Linked DNA regions of Homo sapiens: regions 1, 2, 3 and 5 are each reported to be linked to region 4. Evidence: microRNA targets listed by miRTarBase, many of them from high-throughput screens and not tested one by one. Region 4 holds a microRNA gene; each other region holds the end of a gene's coding sequence.
What was found. The annotated mature microRNA hsa-miR-18a-3p reads ACUGCCCUAAGUGCUCCUUCUGG and lies in region 4 at 1,101-1,123, opposite strand. An mRNA with a match to its seed (bases 2 to 7 or 8) in the 3' UTR can be bound and repressed. Matches are read on the target gene's strand: a 7mer-m8 pairs with bases 2 to 8, a 7mer-A1 pairs with bases 2 to 7 and ends in A, and an 8mer does both.

Region 1: the mRNA of IRS4 is a reported target of hsa-miR-18a-3p. Seed matches in the 3' UTR shown: 8mer at 1,415-1,422.
Region 2: miRTarBase lists FAM120A as a target of hsa-miR-18a-3p. The part of its 3' UTR that is shown has no 7-base or 8-base seed match.
Region 3: the mRNA of ZNF488 is a reported target of hsa-miR-18a-3p. Seed matches in the 3' UTR shown: 7mer-A1 at 1,385-1,391.
Region 5: the mRNA of GNA13 is a reported target of hsa-miR-18a-3p. Seed matches in the 3' UTR shown: 7mer-m8 at 2,256-2,262.

What each region holds. Positions count from the first base shown.
Region 1 is chrX:108,719,222-108,723,339 of GRCh38, reverse strand. IRS4 (insulin receptor substrate 4) reads left to right here. Exons shown (of 2, transcript NM_001379150.1): 2 at 817-3,394. The coding sequence ends at 821. Among named protein-coding and RNA genes, the nearest start is that of IRS4-AS1, 15 kb to the left of the region's middle.
Region 2 is chr9:93,563,816-93,567,933 of GRCh38, reverse strand. FAM120A (family with sequence similarity 120 member A) reads right to left here. Exons shown (of 18, transcript NM_014612.5): 18 at 1,822-3,705. The coding sequence ends at 3,394. Among named protein-coding and RNA genes, the nearest start is that of PHF2, 11 kb to the left of the region's middle. RefSeq lists a silencer at 1,102-1,521.
Region 3 is chr10:47,364,533-47,368,650 of GRCh38, forward strand. It overlaps ZNF488 (zinc finger protein 488), which reads right to left. Exons shown (of 2, transcript NM_153034.4): 2 at 964-4,118. The coding sequence ends at 3,275. Among named protein-coding and RNA genes, the nearest start is that of ZNF488, 18 kb to the right of the region's middle.
Region 4 is chr13:91,347,802-91,351,919 of GRCh38, reverse strand. MIR18A (microRNA 18a) reads right to left here and starts at 1,169; the gene lies at 1,099-1,169. MIR17HG (miR-17-92a-1 cluster host gene) reads right to left here. Exons shown (of 3, transcript NR_197388.1): 1 at 3,961-4,118; 2 at 2,150-2,222; 3 at 1-1,764. MIR17 (microRNA 17) reads right to left here and starts at 1,315; the gene lies at 1,232-1,315. It overlaps MIR19A (microRNA 19a), which reads right to left and starts at 1,029; the gene lies at 948-1,029. It also overlaps MIR20A, MIR19B1 and MIR92A1. RefSeq lists enhancers at 2,100-2,647, 2,648-3,195 and silencers at 2,745-3,734, 3,785-4,118.
Region 5 is chr17:65,010,958-65,015,075 of GRCh38, forward strand. It overlaps GNA13 (G protein subunit alpha 13), which reads right to left. Exons shown (of 4, transcript NM_006572.6): 4 at 1-3,872. The coding sequence ends at 3,300. Among named protein-coding and RNA genes, the nearest start is that of GNA13, 44 kb to the right of the region's middle.

The DNA.
Region 1 (4,118 bases), not on the chromosome of region 4:
GAATACTTAAAATGTATATTTCCAGTTTAATAGACAATCTTGTACTTGAAGCCCACTCTGGGGGATGTTTTCCATGGATTCTTTTAAGATGTCTCAAATAAAATAGAATACTTGGTACTTTGTGGTGACCTGATCTTAAGGTAACACTGGCATCCCATAATCAATTTGCTGATCATTTATTCCTATCCCTTCTCTGGTCCAGCACCTTCTTCTATGTATCTGATCACCCCCTGCCACACTCCCCATTATGCACCCACTCAAAAGCAGAAAGCCAAGAGAATAATGCTGGAACTTTTTTCTTTTATTAAACAGATGGGAATTTCAAGTCTCCTTTGCAGGTATGACTTTGTTCTATTAGAAGAAATTCAATGATTGAGTCTAGAGACCATCACCAATGCTGTACTTAAATCCTATGACTTGTGCCACATAACCTGGTGAAGGCAGAGTCAAACATGTAGAAGAAGAAGAAAAAAATCTGTTTCTCTGCACAATGCCTGGCTCACTCTTGGGCTCCACTGGAAGAAAGTAGAACAGTGCACGCACGTGCAAAGATGCTGTCCACCAGAAATGTCAGTGACAGCCTGGGGGCAAGAAGAATAACTGCCCTTGTGTCTTTGCCCAGCTGATATTCCTCACAGGCAGCCAGCAGAGTTGATTAACCATGTCCATGCCCAGGCAGTCTCCTCTGTATATCTCTCAAAAACTTCTAGTTAGATTTTGTTTTGTTTTGTGTTGTTTTGTTTTAAAACAGGGTGGGGGTGACAGCTCTCCACATTAATTCTGCAAGTAACTTTTGTTTTATTATCTTTTTCCTAGAGTGATTATATTGCCACAAAAACACATTTTAGAAGAAAAGTGATGCTTATGGAATTTTATCTTCGTCTACTCCAGATCTGCCTAAAGGAAAGAAAACTCAGAGGCTTCTGAGTAGAAAGCAACCCAAATTTCTACAAGCCTACAAGTGGACTCTGGCAATTGAATGATCCTATTCATGCAGATCATTCATACTGCTGCTTATGGATCCAGTGATTTCTAATTAACAATATTTACACTGTGCTTTGTTTTTTGTTTTCTGGTTTTCCTCCCCAGTCTGTCCCTTTGAAAGGAAACAGATACTATACAAGTGAGCATCTCATAACTCTTTCCCTCTTTAAAAAAAAGTAACTTAGAATACATATAAATTTGGTCAATGCCAATTTTAATAATGTAAAATATTTAGATTCAATTTTGAAGTTGAAAAACTTTAAACCAGGGCACATAAAGAAAAAACAGCTGTCATAATTGGAAGGAAGGTATGATCTGGAATCTTTTTTCCGAGTATTACACACACAAAACATTTCTTGATCAATGAATTAAATGTCAACTGAACTGATATCTTGATGGGGCATTACCAGTATTTTAAAGGCAGGACTAAAGGGCAGATTATTTCAAGTTTTGCTCATTAGCAAAACTGCAACATTCTGCTCATGTTATATGTCAATGAAACTAATATCTTGATTGAGCATTTCCAACATTTTAAAGGCAGAACTGAGAAACAGCTATTTGTTCACATACAACACTGTGATGTTCTGCCTGAAAATCGATTGAGTATTTCCAAACCTATTATTTTTCATTTATTGTGAAACCTACATTTACCTCCTAAAAGAAACAAAGCTCTTCAAAAGTCTCTTCCCAAGGCCCCTCCCTGCTTCTCTGGGCCTCTCCCCACTTTCAACCTCTATTCTACTTTTTCTTATTCTTTCTCCATTTTCCCCAATGCACACTCTTCCTCTTATGCCCATGGCTACTATAAAGAGATCAATTTCCCATATTCAAGAAATTAGTGTTTACTTATCAATCAATATTCTGACAAAAACTTAAGCCAAAAAGAACCTCTTATAAGGCCTTGTTTCCTTCTGGATATTGAGCCAATATAAGATGTACCAAATTAAAAAAAAAAATCAGAGCAAGCTCCCCCCCGTTCTATTTTTGCTTGCCTCTGATGTAAACTGAATTAAGATTTTAGGTACCTGGACCTTTGAGAACGTGACACTAGCAAGGTGGTGACCACAGAGAATAGGTACAAAGGTCTTGAAGCTTGCTTAGAGCTTTGTTCCGTGGTGGCACACAAATCTTGGCTTGCTGTACCATCATTGGCAAACCTCATCATATCACAGTTGGGTGTGTTTGTATGTGTGTGAGCACTAGTGTGTGTGTGTACATATTCGTGTGTATGCACACTTTGTGTACCTGTGTACATGTGATTGTAGATGTACCTGTTGTGTGTAAACTCTGTTAAAATGAAATTTGCTTCGCATTTAATGTGCAACTTTGAAGTAGTGTAATATTTATCTAAAGGTTTTCACTACTTGGTTTTAATGTCTTTGAACGTGTACTTCTATCTTCAAGCAAGCTTATAGTACGTGTTGCTAAACTAACTTTTCCAAAGAACCGAGTTGACTTCTATTTTTCCTTGCCTACCAACCAAAGGGATGGTGGGCTCTTTTTTCCCTCTTGTAAATTGTGCTGAGGAGAGGACGTGGCTATGAGATCAGTCATTGTTCCAGTTACTGGTCACTGCTAGGGCATCAACTTTATCAGTTCCTTCAGACTCTTCTCTTTTTCCAACCTAATCAAATAACGCAGTGTGGCTTTTGTTCATTATAACAACGCGCTCTTTAGGCAACTTTTTTTCAAGCCTTCTGTCACCATTTTATTTTTTCAAGTAAGTTAAGTAATAATTGTTCAGAATTGTGGGAAAAAAGATTACTTGGGGGAAAATACTGTATCACTTTATTTGCATATTAGGTTCAGAAGCTGCCAGCAGACAGGGTACAGAGGGTACAGCACAGATGTAACAGTTGCTGAATAAATGAATGAGAAACCTCATACACAGTAGTACGTATTATACAAATAGTAACAGGTACACATAGTCACAGGTACTGCATAACAAATGCAATCTTGTTCTCATTATTTATTAGTTTACAGACAATTAATTTATTCAGTATTGTGCTGGAAGAATCTTTGTGGAATATGTTTACCAACTTATCACTTACCTTCCAGCTATCAGTTCATGCTGCTAAGAAAAAACAATGATGGAATATTTTTGTGTGTGTGACCTCTACATTTAATTTGATATCAGGCATAGTCACTTGGTCGTTAAAAACTGAAACTTTACAGTTCCACCAGCTAATTACATCTGCTATTTCTGCTTCACAGATATGCTTTGAGTTGCTTTGGCTTTGTCTTCCTTTGTAAATACTCTTGTACTTTCTTTTCCTTGTAAACATCTCGTTTGCAGTTTTGGGAGACGACTTTGCAACTCTGTATAGTGTTTATATATATATGTATATCTATATATATCTGACTTGCCTTTCCATACAGCTACTCACAATAAATGTGTTCATGTAAATTATTCCTGTAGAGATTCATTTTTTAATACTATTGTCTCTACTTTATTATAAATATATTTTCCTGCTTTGTAGTAGGATTGACTGCATTTTTCAGAATGAAACAAATGGGGTATTTTAGGGTTTGGGCTAAAGGTACTTTGCCTAGAAACATGAGGCTTTTCAATAGAGTCAATAAAGTCAACTCTTGATTTTTCAAATGTAGAGGTGATACTAGTGTAGAACAATTTATAAAATGACTTACCTAAAATTTCATGCAGACCTTGGATAATGAGTGAATCCTATATTGAAGCAACTACTCAAGGAGGTTGAGGTGATCATTTACTTTTTTTTTTTCTGTCTCCTTCCCTTGACACTTAATCTTGCTCTTTAAATTACTCTTTTTTTTTTTTTTTGTTTTTTTTGAGACGGAGTTTCACTCTTGTTGCCTAGGCTGGAGTGCAATGGTGCGATCTCGGCTCACCGCAACCTCCGCCTCCCAGGTTCAAGCGATTCTCCTGCCTCAGCCTCTCAAGTAGCTGGGATTACAGGCATGAGCCACCACGTCCAGCTAATTTTGTGTTTTTAGTAAAGACGGGGTTTCTCCATGTTGGCCAGGCCGGTCTCAAACTCCTGACCTCAGGTGATCCACCCGCCTCAGCCTCCCAAAGTGCTGGGATTACAGGCATGAGCCACCGTGCCCGGCCTAAATGACTCCCTTTTCATTTTCTTATTTTTAACCACTAGGAA
Region 2 (4,118 bases), not on the chromosome of region 4:
CCAGGATATCATGCTGCCAGGAAGGAGAAACACCAGCATCACCATTCAGTCCAGCCCGCACCAGTGCCACCCACAGCCACTGACCCCTGGGCCCATGACAGCATCGCCCTTGGGCCTTCCTCTGCAATTCTGGTGGTGTGGAAGGAGTGGCCAGCATGGCTCCAGCAAGGAGGGATGTCCTTGGCCTCCTTGTTCCAGCCACAGGGTCGCCGGAGCCCCAGCACCCTCTCCCTTCCTCTCTCCTTAATGCCCACGCCTGCACCTACTGGAGCTTCAGGAGCGGGTGGACAGACCCAACTTGGAGCTAAGGGTTGGGTTCCAGCCCAGTCCCTGCTGAGAGTGACCTAAAGCAAGCTGTGCTGCTCTCTCACCTACAGCAATTGCAACTAAGAGATGAGAACCACCGGAAAGAAGGAGCACCTGCTTGTCAGGGAGCAGAGAGGGACCCTTGACATGCGCGCGCTCCTGCTGCTGAGACTGTACTGTTCAGAAACCTGTCCCTCTCCCCTCTTAAAGCCAGAGGGCTCTCCCTGTCAGTTTGCTATTCTCAAGTGGCGTGGGCCTGCCCCTTGAGAGAGGGAAGAAAAGCGCGTGGTTGTCACGGTGGGAGAGGTACTGCCTAGCAATGGATGGTGGAAGCTGGTGGGCCTGGAAAGTGTTCCTCCACAACGCTGTCCCTCTGCCAGGCACGTGCGATCCAGAGTGGGTTAGACTGGTTCCCGTCACAGGCAGGGTCCTCAGTGGAATGGTGTTTTTGAAAGATGGAGCGTCCGGGCGCCCCCATCTTCTCACAGCACAGAGAAGGGGCTGGCTGGCCCGCCACCGGGAGGCTGGCGCAGAGGGACTCAGCCGTGGCCCCGGAACAGCGGGCCACCGTCAGGAACCGGCGAGTCAGGGTGGGAAGAGGCCCTGGAGTGAGCGAGGCTAGCTTCACTTCCTTCAAACTCTGAAGGCCCACCCCATAAAAAGAAGGGGTAAATTCGTCTGGGGTCTGAACAGCCAGGACCAAGAGCGCTCTCAGGCTGCTAGTTGGAGAAACTGGCTCGGCTCGGGCCTTGCTGGGACTCGGGCTCCCAGGGTCTGCTCGGTCTCTCTCGGGGCACTCGGGTCTTTGCTGGGCCCGGCGCCGGCCCCGCACAGAGAACCGGCTTCAACGGCGCAGTCTCAGCCTCCGGGAGGAAAAAGCTGGGAGTAGGCCTCACTGACACGGCCCCGCCTCGCGGGCTGCGCGCGCACCGGGACCTGCGCGGTGGCGGACGGGGAAGCGCCACGCAAGGCCCCGCCCCGCCCTTCCACAGGAAGGAAACGCGCCCCCGGGCGAGCGCCAGCCCCTCCCTGGAGCGGGATCGCCGCAGCTCTCCTGGCCGCCTCCGGCGCCGTTAGCCCACCATCCCCCGCTAGAGGGCAGCACGGGGCGCTTTCTCCAGGCGCTCGGCGGACCTGGGTACGGGGACCTCATATCAGGCTGCAGAGAAGAGCCTTCAGTCAAAAGGATGGCATGAAAAACGGACTATACTTGTAACATCCAGCTTTTAAAACGTGGTGGAGTCAAATTTATTGCTTCCTCAGGGCTTAAAAAAACCTCTTCTGTAAGTCTGCTTTATCAAACAGAATTTTTTTATCCCCTTGGTTGCTTGAAACTGAGCTATCAAACAAATTAATCATATATTAATGTCCCTCTAAGCCGGAAACCTGGAATTACTTTGAAAAGGTAAAATATTTTTCAACTTTGGTTTTCTGATCTTTTCAGTAGTTGTTTCGATTTGAATTAAACCTCTATAAAATTAGCTTTTACAAGTGAATTTAAAAGCCACGCCATACTTTATACTAAAAGAATAAAGATTTTTATTAAGCATTGTAAGTTGCATTCAATAGCCTTCAGATACACCACACCACAATCCATCGACAGTCAATCAAACCCAACAGCAGTTCATTCTTGCACAATCCATGAGTTAGGGCAAAACTCCCTTCAACTTACAGTAAGATCCTACTTAGCTCTTGCGGGCAGGGGTTGGGGAATTACACCTCATTTCTGATCACTAATGTGATGAAGAGCATCAGAAGTATATGAAAACGATAAGAAGTGATTCTGATTTCAAAGTACATTGTTTGGAAACATTAACAAAAACATCAAAATGATAGAAGTATACCTGCTTCTACTAAATTCTTGATGGGAAAGTTCTCAAGAACAAGCAATTTGTTTCCTGCTACAGAAGGGGGGGGTGGTTTTTTTTTTTTTAAGATCAAAGGGTTTTTTTTCACAGAATTTCATATTTGCTAATATGAAGGCATAAAACAGCAACAAAGAACAATAATGCATACAGCAGTGAATACACCAGGGTAATGTTGATATTCGAAACGGCTAGATAATTTTTGGGGGGCTTTAGAATAAATGCAACAGAGGTCAATAATCACAAAATTTTAAGGTTAGAGCAAGATCAGTCAATGACTAAACAGAGTTAACATCTTTTATAGGACTATTACTGATTATTAGCATTTTTGTTTTGCAAATGGGCACATACTGTTAAGAATGGAAGAAAGGACGATAACATGCATATTAACTACACACTTTAAAAATTATGAACCATGCAGAAGTTTAGCTCAAGTAGTAGTACTAATGGTCTACATCCGATTCAAAACCACATAGTTCATTGATCACAGATGCATGGTATTAGTCACGAAAGTTTCAGAACACATTGTGTTGATTTTGAAAGGTCATTTGCATCTTCTATGATTTCAACTTTATCTCCATTTAACTTGCTTGTAAAGTATGTATGATGTATTGTATATTTAAAATCAGCAGAACGGCAATATTACTCTATAATTTTTTAGTTTTGATAGTTGCACTTTTTTTTTTTAACACAAAAGAACCACATCAACAGTGATGAAATTTAAGAAAGAAAAACTGTGGTTGTGCCTTATTTCTTTCATAATCATAAAAATCAAAGCCTTAAAGAAAGCTTCATTGTGAAACAGTAATGCAAAATCAAATATAATGGCATACATATGGTGCCAAATGCTAAAAATTATATTTTAAGCTATATATACTTAAAGACTGCCAAAATTTGTTTTCTTTATAGTTCAAGAAACACAACTAAAGGCTTTTGTCATAACCAGTTTAAACTTTATGTGTACTTCATTTTAAGTGCGGGAGTCAAATGCTCTTCATTTTCTTTCTCTTTTTTGTTTTATTGTAGCATTTTGACTACAACTGGTTAAAACTAAAAATGTGTTGTTTAAATCTCTGATATCAAAGAGGGATCTGAATTTCCAAAGTCCTCATTTTTCTCTTACGGAAAGGACAAAATGTACATAACTGCAGGCTCTCTTTCTCTCCAGATATTCCTAAATCCTTACCCTTCCAGCATCCTTCACCCTCTATAAAAAATAAGTTTACTCTTCTTTATTTAAGACAGCTGCCTCCAGAGCAGCTTCTCTGCGGCAAGCGCTGTCTGTACTTAGTGCATTTAAATGAGGATTTGTATTGCACGTTTTAGAGTCATTATTCAAGGCACTTTCAGAGTGGCTGGGGGCCCTGGCGTCACCCGTGCTCCCGTTCATCTGGGGAGCCGGCTTCTCCTCGGCCATCACTCCGTTTTCAGCCAGGGACCCGTCTGAAGACATAGCAGAGGACTTCGATTCCCCAGATTTTGACTTAAGTTCTTTGGCCACTTCTTCTGCTGAAGCAGCATAAGGAGGTCTGCCCTGTTTAAAATGAAGGACAACAAATGAGAAGGTGGTTTCTGATAAACAGAAGAGAGAGGATGCCAATTTTGGCCTAATGACACTCTCTGCAGATTCAAGAGCAGAAAATGCCCAGCTGGGTCCTTCTAACCCTGTCTTTGCTTTGACTTTTGGGCGGTAGATGCTCTACCTGTCTCAGTCAGTTCCCTCCATGGCCCCTTCCCTCAACTCCTCTGTAGTTAACACCCTGAAAATGAGGGAGATTCCCCCTTCAGGAGCTCTGTCTAATCCTTTGTATGGCACTAAATTGTTTAAAGTAACAAATGCCCCTCAATAAGTCCTCTCTAAAATTGCGACTGTTCCCACTGCCACAAAACAAACAGGGTCTCCCACATCTGCCTGTGATGTGCAGCAGCACACACACCCCATTTCTA
Region 3 (4,118 bases), not on the chromosome of region 4:
CTGCTGCTGTCCCAGTTCCTGAATCATCCAACCACACTGGGCTGGGCAGACAAGTGGCAGGCTAAAAAGGACATGAGCTCAATCTGGGGTCCTGGAGTCTTATTCTTGCACTGATGCTCCTGAGCCCATGGTCTTAGGAAAGTTCTTGACCTCTTGGAGTTTAATGTCATCTGCAGCAGAGTGGGAATTATTAATAACAATCTGCCTCCTGGCTGCTGCGTGTCAAGTGCATAGTGTGGGGCCTCATGCCGAGACCTTGAGTTGCCCTTTCCTGCCTCACCTGAGACAGCACACGGGGAGGCTCCCATAGCTTCAGCTGCCTTCTGTGCTCAGCCTCTCCATGTGTAAATGACACCCCCACACAGCACCTAAAGGGGCCAGCAAGGCTGAGCTTTCCTTGTCTTGTCTTAGTGAGCAAGGGACCTCCCAGTGTCCCTTTGGGAATGATGATGCTTTATTGGCACCTGCAGGGAGCACCCTTCCCTCTTCTAGATGTGGAAGACAATGAGCTCAGGGGGTCCAGGCCCCCTCCTCCAGGCCACGCTCCCCACTGCAGCTGGAGAGTACCCCCAAAGTGCCTCTCCGAGCCAAGCCCTCAGTCCCCTCGGTCCAAACCGCTCTCCCGTGAGGCCCTCCTACCCCTGCCCCTCCATCTCCTCCTCACACCCTGACACAATTGCAGACTCTGGACTGATCTTTCTCCTCAGCCACTGCTCCCCTGCCTGCATCACCAAATCACCGGCACATACTTGCCTTTGAGGCTCAGCTCAAAGTGCCCAGGGATGCTGAATAAATGAATGGAAATGGACCCACTCACTCAATCCCTTGCCTGGCCAGGGAGACAGCGTAGGTGAAGGAAGCTCAGTACACATGGAGCCTTCCAGCTGCATGGCAGCCTCCTGCAACCCTCCACAGCCAAAGGAAGATTGCACACATATTCAGACCCAGCTTCTCACACAGAAATTATTTCCACAATATTTATTATGCACCAACAATATGCCATGCCCTGTTCTGGGCACCAGGGATGCACAGTAAACAAACCAATCTCTGTTCCCAAGGAGCTGACAGTGTGGAGGCAGCAAATCAACAAGACGACAAACAGAAAGATGGTTGCAGATGGTGAGACATGCTGTGAAGGAAGCAACAGGGTGATGCGGCTGAGAGAGGCAGAGGCTGCAGGGCTGCTTTACGGGGAATCTGGGAGACCTCTCTAAGGAGCTGACCTGCGAGAAGAAGCCCTGTGGAACCATAGCAGGAGCAGCACCATGAAGAGCTAGATAGAAAATGTTGAATGAAGCCCAGGCTTGAGAAACGGCACCAGAGCTGTGGTCAGAACACGGGAGCAGACAGTGGAACAGCAGCGAGGTGGTATAGCGGGGTCCCCTCTGCCCACTGCCACCTGTGGGCCTCATAAGGGCAAGCTCGGCCCATGAAGGTAGCAGGTATAGCTTCAGGGAAGTGTCAGAAACACTGGAAGTGTTATAGCATCATCTGCAATTGACTCATTGTAGAAATGGAAAGGAAACAGCTCTTGCCTTCCAGGGCTATTGTAGGACTCACTATAACATCTGTATTCTTCCAGTGCTTATGCTATTGCCTGGCACACAGGGAGAGTGAAATGAGTGCTTGCAATTAACATGAGGCAGGGACTTGTTCATGAAGCAGCTGGCAGGTCCTGCTGGGGTTAGGCCTGTAAGTGTGAAGGGCAGCCACAGGGTTGGAGGCATCATCTGAGTTACACTTTCAGAAGATTATCTGGTTGTGTGTGTGTGGACAATGGATGCGTGCATGGTGAGAGGCAGGAATGGAGGGAGCGAGGACATCAGAGCAGCCAGGTGGGAGTGCTGCTGCCTGGAACGGTGGACAGAGGAGAGCAATAGAAGAGGTGCAGTCTGGGAGGCTGGCTGAGATCCCCACCTGCTCAGCTGGGCTTATTCCCAGCCACAAGCCTGAGATCTGTGCTGGGGACTCATTGGAGGGCTGGAAACTGCATATCAAAAGAACAATATCTGACAGTGAGGTGGAAACCAGTGCAAAAACGACACTGGCTTGGAAACTCCCCACAAAGGGCTTTCACGCAGACTGACCTGTGGAATGTCAAAGAGTACAGCCTGGGCTCCACACATCCTTAGGAACAAGGGCTGATGCGGGTACCTACAACAGCTACTGACCGAAACGCAGTAGATAATAAATGGTACCTAGAATGCTCCCCAGCCTCACGATCTGGAAGCCTAGTTTTTGCACATGTCCTATTCTTGGAAGGTAAAACAGCATGTGTGTAGGTGGTGGGGAGGGGGTTCTATTTCCCCGTATTCATATACTCACAATGTGAAGAACTATGGACCAGGTATTGGCTGGAATTACCTGTCCCAATTCCTCACCCTCCTGTGGAGGGGATGGATGGTCACTCCCTTGTCACAGCTTCACCAAGGGCAGCCTACACTTTTCCACTCCTTAATATTGGGCCTGGTCCTGCCACTTGTATGGGCTGAGAGGACATTGGCAATGTGACCCAAGCAGAGGCTTGAGGTGTGCTTGTTAGACTCACCCTCCTGTGTTCTTGGCATGACCACGAGAGAAGCGTGCTCGCTCTGGGTAGCCCACCAGCCGAAGAAGAAAACGAATATGACTTGATCAAATCTGAGACTTGCTGCCAAGCCCAGCCAAGCTCAGCTTAACCTGAGCCAACCCACAGACTCACGACTTAGGCAGATGCTTTAGCTTGTCTGCCATGGAGATCTTGTTAATAACAATAGCTAACTAGTACAGACATCATCACAAACCTTGTTGACTCAGTGCTCAGGGTCTGCAGGCAGAATGCTGGCCACTTTCCACACACCTTTCATGTGACCTGAATGCCAACCTAAGACACAGTGTTATCATCTCCATTTCACAGATGAGAAAATGGGGACTCAGCAGGTTAAAGCTCTTTGTCCAGGGTCACAGCTAGTATGTGAAAGAGCCCAGATTCGAATCCAGGCTTGTGTGCCTCCAAAGCCCATGATGTGTGCCAGGAGTTGCCCCTGCTCTCTGTGCCTGTTAGGGCCTCTACCCTGGATTTGCAAAGCCCATCACTTTATTTCAGGACTTCATTTCCTTCAAAACACATCATGCAGGTGTGGCTTTTTCAAATTATGCCTGAGCTGTTTATCTATGAATGCCAAAAGCAGCAGCTCTGCAAAGGACCATGACAGCCCCCTCAACGCAGGCCCAGGGAGCCCCCCTCTGCCAAAGGCTGGCTGCTGCACCCAGCAGGTCATTCTGCGGTCACCTGCTAGCTGTGAGAAGTCATGTGCCGGGAGAGGTGGTGGCGCTCCCGGAAGTGCTCCTGGCACACAGGGCAGGCAAGGGCCTCTTCTCTCCGCTTCTGAGAATGTGGGTCAGGCCCCGCATGCTCCTTTTTGTGGTGGGATCGCATGTGAAAGACCAGGTCGGACGTTAGGCGAAAGGACAGGTTGCACTTTGCACACCAGTTCTGGGTGGACAAGCCCAGGGAGGTGAGGGTGGGTGGCAGGAGGGCCCACGAAGTGGTGGAGGATGATGAGGGTGGGGGCACCTGGGCCTGGGTATGCTCCAGCCACAGTGTAGGGGCACCCAGAAAAGTGCTACAGAGTGGAGCATTCTGTGGCAATGCTTGCAAGTTCCACAAATCACCAACCAAAAGCTTGGGAGTTGAAAGTCGACCCCAACAAGCGAGGTCTGTAGTGTTGAGGAGTCCAGACAGCTCCCCCAGGGCATCTGCAGATTCCCCTGCAGGGAAGACTGAGGTTAGCTCAGGCCTCTCTGCTGGTCGCTTGGTTGGTTTGCTAAAGGCGCTTCTTTGCTCACTTCGTGCTCCGCTGGGCCACACAGAGAAGACTTTGCTGCCAGCTGGGCCTCTGGGGATGTTCTGGGTCAGCTGTGGGGCACCAGGTTGGCCTGTGGGGTCATCGTGCTCCCTCTCCTGGGCCTGAGCATCCACCTGCCGGTCCTTCATCCTCGGCAGCTCCGTGAAGGCGCTCTGCCTCTGCTCTCCACGTGTCTTCGGGGGCAGCGGCTTGCCAGGTCGGGGCTTGCCTGGGGCTACCAACAGTGCCAGCTCCGCACTGCCCACATCCCGGCCCGCCCTGCCCACAGCA
Region 4 (4,118 bases):
CATTTAACAGTTACACTTCAGTTACTCATGTATTGGTAAACTGGTACTTGCTTAATAGAAACAAATTGTACCCCAACCCTAAATTCCATGCTTAAAAAAACTCATCTTTACACATTGCTTTAAACAGAGCGGCATTCTCTCTAAATTTAAATACTTGAGTAATATATGAGCAACATAAATTAACTTTTAGATTAAGTAAAATATCCTGGAATAACACTAACTCCAAAGAAAGCAAAAAGATATACTCTAACTTTACAGATGATCATCAGGTATACAGTATGTTTAGTCATATCGCAATACTTAACAGCCAAATAAATCTAACAACAAAAAATATAGCCAGAATTTATACTGCCAAATCTGACACGCAACCCCAAAAGTGAAATGTTTTTGAATGAAAACAAGACAAGATGTATTTACACAAAAAGTTACACATTTTCTTTAATATTTCATGTATCTTGTACATTTAACAGTGGAAGTCGAAATCTTCAGTAATATTTAATTTTCAAAATCTTCTGGTCACAATCCCCACCAAACTCAACAGGCCGGGACAAGTGCAATACCATACAGAAACACAGCATTGCAACCGATCCCAACCTGTGTAGAAAGGGGTTTGAGTTTCCCTTACTTTTCTACAGACTTTTCACTACCACAGTCAGTTTTGCATGGATTTGCACAGCAGAATATCACACAGCTGGATGCAAACCTGCAAAACTAACCATAGAACAGTGTTCAGTAACAGGACAGTTTGATTGGGCGACAGGCCGAAGCTGGAGTTCTACAGCTAGCAGTACTTTAAGTGCTCATAATGCAGTAGATAACTAAACACTACCTGCACTATAAGCACTTTAGTGCTACAGAAGCTGTCACATCAGATAGACCAGGCAGATTCTACATCGACACAATAAAAGTACACAAAATTAGTAAAAATCATTCATTTGAAGGAAATAGCAGGCCACCATCAGTTTTGCATAGATTTGCACAACTACATTCTTCTTGTAGTGCAACTATGCAAAACTAACAGAGGACTGCAAACAAAAACTATTAAAACACCTATATACTTGCTTGGCTTGAATTATTGGATGAATACATAACTTCTTATGCCAGAAGGAGCACTTAGGGCAGTAGATGCTAATCTACTTCACTATCTGCACTAGATGCACCTTAGAACAAAAAGCACTCAACATCAGCAGGCCCTGCACTTTAAAGCCCAACTTGGCTTCCCGAGGCAGCTGTCACCATAATGCTACAAGTGCCTTCACTGCAGTAGATGCACATATCACTACCTGCACTGTAAGCACTTTGACATTATTCTGACTGGTCACAATCTTCAGTTTTACAAGGTGATGTTCTCTTTTTTCCTGCTAAATTTGAAATAGATAATTAGAATTAACACCTCAAACTCTAACAACTATAAACCATACAAATTCAGCATAATCCCTAATGGGGAAGAAAAAATTAGTTTAATTATCTCAAAGATATGAGGTCCATTTAGACACGTATTTATGCCTTAAGAATTCTTTACAGAAGGCAATCATAACCAACCATCCAACTAGCACTGGAAGTGGTGGCTCTTCCAATGGCTGGCCTCTCCCAAATGGATTGACACATAGAGAAAAAAAACAAAACAAAATGAGACTGCAAATAAATGAGAACTAATTTTGGAACATTTAAAGGCAATTTAGTCCATGTGTACCTTTTAGAGGAAATCTTCACATCCACGTGGCAAAACATTTTCCTCCTCTTCTGGCTTCCACTTAGCAAATACTTGTTGAAATGATTAACAAAATTACTGTTCAGACTACACTTCAAGTGTTATCAGTCAATTGTAGCAGAACGTAAATATCCTGTTTAAATCTATCATCTCAGGTTATATCTACTTTATCACCCAACTTAAAAGAGGGTCTAAAATTATATTTCGTAAACTGCATAAGCCAGTTTCCAAAAATGTACAGGAATATTTACACTGTAATTTTACTACCTTAAAATTAGCAAATCCGTACTTAATGAGTTAGTTTTTCAGAAAAGGTACATTGTCTAAAGAAAGAAACACCTACTTTTACTCTCTAAGAAACCAATCCTATTTATTCAACTTTAATAGCAAGAAAAATTTGTTTTTAAGAAAAGTTCAAGAAAATCAGAATACACTTACCCATTCCAGAAAACTTCCTTTTCAGCAAGTATTCTCAGAAAAGCTACTGGTGCAGTTAGGTCCACGTGTATGACTGGAATAGGGAAAAATAAGGAAAAAAAAGATAAAACATTATTTGCTCAAAATTACTACCACCGTCCAAATCTATATTTGCTATTTTCCAACCTCCTAACAGCAATTAATTCCATCCATTTGTGAGAGTAAGAGTCGAGCAATACTAGCAGGATTTAAAAGCCCAATAATTTACAGTTGAAAAATACGTAAGAGAATAAAGTTGAAAAATCCTTAGCTATCAGATACATGTCTAAATAAGCTCCTAAAATACTTGATTATGATCAGCAGCAATCACCGACTCCACTGTACAGCTCCAGTAAAAGGAAAAAAAAAAAGCAGCCCACAGACTATTCTTCACCACCCCTCCCCCAATCAAGACCTCGTGGCTGCAAGCCGGGATAAAGAGTTGTTTCTCCAACTGCTGTGGTCCTGATGGCATGCCGTTAATTTTCTCTTTTGGTGATATTGCAACGACGAGCCTGCCTTTTTCAGTTCCTTTTCCCTTTGCTGCAGTTTAGGAACAGAAGACCGGGCAGGAACACCCGAGACTGCAAAGTGCCCGCCACGCTCATGGAGCCCGGGCCGGCAGCACATGTCGCACAAGGGGGAGCGCGGCCCTGCGATTCTCCGCGTAGCCGCCAGGGGGCGGCGGGTCAGAGTCAGGCCCCGCCGGACGCGGCAACCCCCCCAACCCGTTTCCCGGCGGCAGCCGCGCGGCGACCGGCGGCGCCGAGGCCCGAGTGCGGCGGGGACGCGGGCGCGCCGCCCCTCCTTTGTGTCCCCCAGCCCCCCCGAGCCCGGCCCAGAGGGGCGGGGGCTCCGCGGCCGCGGTGCCCGTCGCACGCGGCCCGAGGCCTAAGCCGGGAACAATCGGCGGCGGCGCGCAGTCGCCGCCATGTCCCCCGCCCTCACCCCCGTGCAGCCCGCCCCGCAGGAACATGGCGGCGGGGACGCCGCTCCCGCCGAGCCGGGCTGGCCCTCCCGCGCCACACTCCCAGCAAGCGGCCGGGCGCAGGCGGCTCCACGCCGCGGCTGAGGCCGACTGCGGCCTCCTCCGAGGGCCACGGCGGGGAAGTTGCGGGCCCCGCCCCGAGGCTGCCCACGCGGGCTAACAAAGCCCACGCGGAGCGGGGGTGGCGCCCAGGCCGCGCCGATCTCGGCGCCCCTCCGCCCACCCTCGCGCGTACAAAGTTTGGGGAACCGCGGGCTCCCGCCCACGCCACGCCGCCCGCTGGCGCGCAGGTACCTCGTGGGCGCGCCCCCTCCCGGCCCGCGGCCTGCCCCATGTGCCGCCGCCGCCGCCGCTTTGTTCTGGAGGCGCTTTAACTCTCGCCCTCGGGAGAAACTTTCCTACCCAGAGACCCCACGCCCCGCGCGCGCCCCGGGCCCCGGAGAAGGCACGGGCCTCGCACGTCCTCTCCCCGAGGGGCCATTGTGTTCGCCGTCCGCCCACCCGCCTTCGGGTCGGCCCAGGCAGGGTCTGCGCGGGTCCCGGGCGCGGCCGCCACGCGCACGCCGCCCCCTCCCACCCTCCCGCCCCGGCCCTGCCCCCCTCCGCCGGCCCGCGGGCGAGCGAGGGGGCAGCCAGATGCGGCTGCCACACGCCGGGGCGGCCAACGGCCGAGACCCGCCCCGGCCACGCCGCCGCCGCCACGCTGCCCCGGGCCAGTCCGCCCCGGGCCGCTCCGCCCCGCCCGCCAGACCCGGGCCGCACACAACAGGTTTCCCTCCGTCGCCGGAGGGGCGGGCAGACTCACCAGGAGGAGTAGCCGCCACCATCTTCGGCTGGCCGGCCGCGGGCTCCTGCTCCCGCCTCCCCGCCCGCCTGCGCTTTACTACGACCGGAGGCCCCAGGCCGGGGGTGCGGCCGGCCGGCCCGCCCCGCGAGGAGAGCTTCGCGGAGGAGCGCGAGCCC
Region 5 (4,118 bases), not on the chromosome of region 4:
AATTTTAGGACATAACAGTGTAACATGGTAACTTTATTCTTCATATATAAATAAGGCATAATCGGATGTGTATTAATGCTGAAAATACATTTTATCAAAAGCATAAATACAAGTATTTGGGTACACATTGAAAGTTAGGACTTAACCAATTTCTTCTTACAAAAAATGATAAGGACATATGGTATTTGTTGAATCTAAATCAGCACTTCTAATCATTTCTGGTATTAAGGCGATCTTATTTCCTTCTACTTTAAACCAACCACTGCCACCAACTGAATAAGGATTTCCCTAAACAGCCTCAATTTGAGAGACTAACCAGAGGACCTTCTCTATGCAAATTACATGCCAATACACCTTAAAAGAAAATAAGACAAAAGTGAATGAGTTTTTTCATTCCATATTGCTTTCTTTGGTTGCAGAGCAATCCAGTGCCCTTTCCAGATAATAAAATTGAAATGAAGATTTCAATTTAATATTTGGCAGACAGCAACAATGCAGGTTATTAAAAATATTAAAGGGGCAGAGGCATGCTTTGAATTACTCAGATTTTCAGAAAACATTTGACAAAACCCTTTCTCTATAAAAGTTATGGTCTAAATTTATGTTGTTTTATAAGGCAACTGTATATACATTTCTTCAAGGTCAATGAAGACACTTGTGTGATATTTCCTCAGAATTAAATGAGAAGGCATTCAGATTTAAGAACAGAATGTAACACAGGATTAGGCACATTTTATTCCAAATCATAACCATAAAGATTTAGAAAATCAAATACATCAAAGAACTTTAAATCTAAATTACTTTTTTAGAGACTGGGGTAAGTTTGCATAGTGAAATTATGAGCACCTTTTCAATTCTGTTCACTAAATTTCATCTCTCTCTTCATATAGTGGTATTTCAAAAGGATTCAGTTTTCATGATACAGGTGTAAGACTCCTTTCAAACGTTTTTAAAATACAACGTATAAAAAAATGTGGACTGAAGCCTTTAGATTGAACTTAAAGTTCTACTGAATGTCAAAACAAGCCTAAGTTGAATATAAGTAATTCATTGCCTCAAAATATAGTCTAGATTTTAAAAGAATGTTGATTCTGAGACATTACATGCAGCAGGGAAGAAAACTGCAAATGCCCAAAATAACATGATATCTATTTGGTGTTTCAACACTTCTTGGTGGTAATTCAAAAGGGGGAAACTTGGTGATTTCTGCTTTGTCAGGCAATATCTATGGTTCGTATCACAGATCTTAACTATGACTTAAGTAAGATGAAGTGTCCTCTTTCTATAGGGATCTAACTTGAGCCCTCACTGGAGTCAAATGTTTTGGCCATTCAATTTGCTAAATGTATGGGTAAACTCTCCAATGAATAGTCCAAATGTTACTGTGCACATATTCCGATATTCATTAGCACTGCAATTATGCTAATTTTGTGAATTTAAACAATGTATTCTTTTTGGCAAGAAGCACTAGATGTAGAACTATTCAAACACGCATGAATGATACCATGATACCACGAACATGCACGATACCATGAACTTGCATCACGGTGCCGGGCTACGTATGTGTAGCTCATGGATTACCATGGCATGAAAATGCTAGAAGTTATATGGATACAATGATAGTGGAAGTTCAAATGTGAGAAAAGTCAGGTATGTCAAGAACAATCCCTGGTTAGTTCACTGAAAAGCCCCACTCTCGTATCAGACAGCAAGACAGAACAACAGCCACTGACTTGGAAAGGCTGGGTGATCCATAACGACCAATCTTTCAAGGACCAATAAAATACCTGAGTACACAGTCAGCTATACAGTAAAATGACAGATATCACAGTCTTAAAATTTTCAGGAAAAGTAGAAAAGCTGTCAGACTTTTCAAGCTGTCGCCAGCCTTGGACTTCTGTTTCTCTAATTGTAGCACTACATACAGCCTAGAAGATAGTATTTCAGTACTGCAAACCAGCCATTCTGATGAGTTCACTATGAATGTATCTGCGATCACAAAGCTACTTCGTGGACACATTTTAATTTGGTAAGCAGTCGGGGGAGGTCAATGTAATCATCTTTAGGTGCGAACTAAAAAAATTACTACTGATCCTTAGAAGCATCCTTAAAACATTTAAAATATACCTCAAAAAAGCTGGACTTTCAACAACAACAATTATACAAATGTATACATACTGTATCTGTTAGAGACACACCAAGAATGAACAGGAATCTCAAATAATGCCTTCTTGAATAGTCTTGACAGAAAAATACTGCCCTTAGCAAACTCCAAATAAACAAAACGATGCCACAAATGGCACAGTGTGGAGTTGATGGGACTGGACAGGACAGCAAAAGATAGATGTTTGTGATGATACAACAATGATTTCCTACAGTAAGGATTGGTCTTTACTGACCAACTGAGATAGGGCTTAAAAGTCAAATACATGACATTCTGGAACAGGTTAAGTTTATTTAGAAAGTTCTGTTACCAAGTTGCTTGCAGTTTTTAGTTGCTGCTATGGCCAGAATGTTTCACATATGGTACATTAAACTACATGATAATTAAATATGAGAAAGGCAAATTCTATTTCACTCGTTACGTTTGACCAAAACACGGTAAACAGCATTAGCTTGCCTTTTGCTCTCCCATACCACCTGTGAACTCTTCATCAGCATCAGACCAAAGATCCTTATGTAAACTTGAAAACAGGAAGAACATTACCTTCAGAAACACAGAAATCTAAAAGCAAAACAGCTGTTGTGTATACAAGCAATTAAAATATGAAGGCTAAACCTTCTATAAACCTACAGAATGCCATTTCTTAGATAGAACTTCTAACAGCCCTTACAAAATAGGAGGTCACCATAAAGTTAGGCAACAAGTGTCACTGCTATATGTAAGGCGGACAGAAGATATCTTGTTTTGGAACTGAATATTCCTAACCTCATCCCTACAAGTATTTAAGGACACCTTTGATACTTGGCACTGCAGGAGAATTCAGTTTGGAAAGTAGAATAATTTAAAGCCTGAAATATGCCTAGTCTGAGGTCAGCTGGGAGGTTTTAACTGGACTTGAATAGAAGCCATGGTGAAACAGATCAAAGCCTGCATTACAGCAAATCTTGGCGATGAGTCACTCAACAGCTTTCAGCCACAAACCAAAGGCCGCAGAAAAAGTACTAAGATTTTCAAGAAGTTAAACGTAGAATTAAGATTGTTCTAATTCTGGTTGTAAACTGCTATTTTAAAAAACAAAACAAACAGAAAACATCAAAAACACAAAAAGATATTAAAACAGCAAGTCTTTTGTACATCACTGTAGCATAAGCTGCTTGAGGTTGTCATGCAGAATAGTATCCTTCACGTCACGGAAAACAAGGCGGATGTTCTCCGTGTTGATAGCAGTGGTGAAGTGGTGGTATAAGGGCTTCTGTTGCTGGTCCCGGCGTTTGTTCCGGAAACATTCCACCAGGAATTTTTGGACGTCTCTTAAGCAGTGGGGATCCCCTTCAAATTCTAGGAAATAGTCTTTGATGCTCACAATTTGCACCTTCTCCTCAAGCAAGTCTGTCTTGTTTAAGAACAGAATTATGGAGACATTGCTGAAAACCCGGTTATTGACGATTGTTTCAAAAATGTTCAGAGACTCTGTAAGGCGATTGGTCAGTCGATCTTCCATAAGCACCTGGTCAAATTCACTTGAGGAAACAAGGAAAAGTATTGATGTCACACTGTCGAAACATTCAAACCAACGTTTCCTTTCTGATCTCTGACCACCTACATCAACCATTTTGAAAGGAACATTTTTTATTTCAAAGTCGTATTCATGGATGCCTTTGGTGGGTCTTCTGGCAAGCAGAATATCTTGTTGTGATGGAATATAATCCTGGAAAAGAAAAAACTTGTTTTATACCTATTAATCCCGAAGTAATGCGAATTTTTAATGGACTACTAACTGGACTAGTGAATAGATATGCAAACAAAATGATCTTTTAAGTGACATTTTCAGATAGATTATGCTTATTATAAAATGCCAAGACTGGTCAGACATGGTGGGTCATGCCTATAATCCCAGCACTTTGGGAGGCTGAGGCAGGAGGATCGCTTGCGAAGCCAGGAGTTTGAGAATATC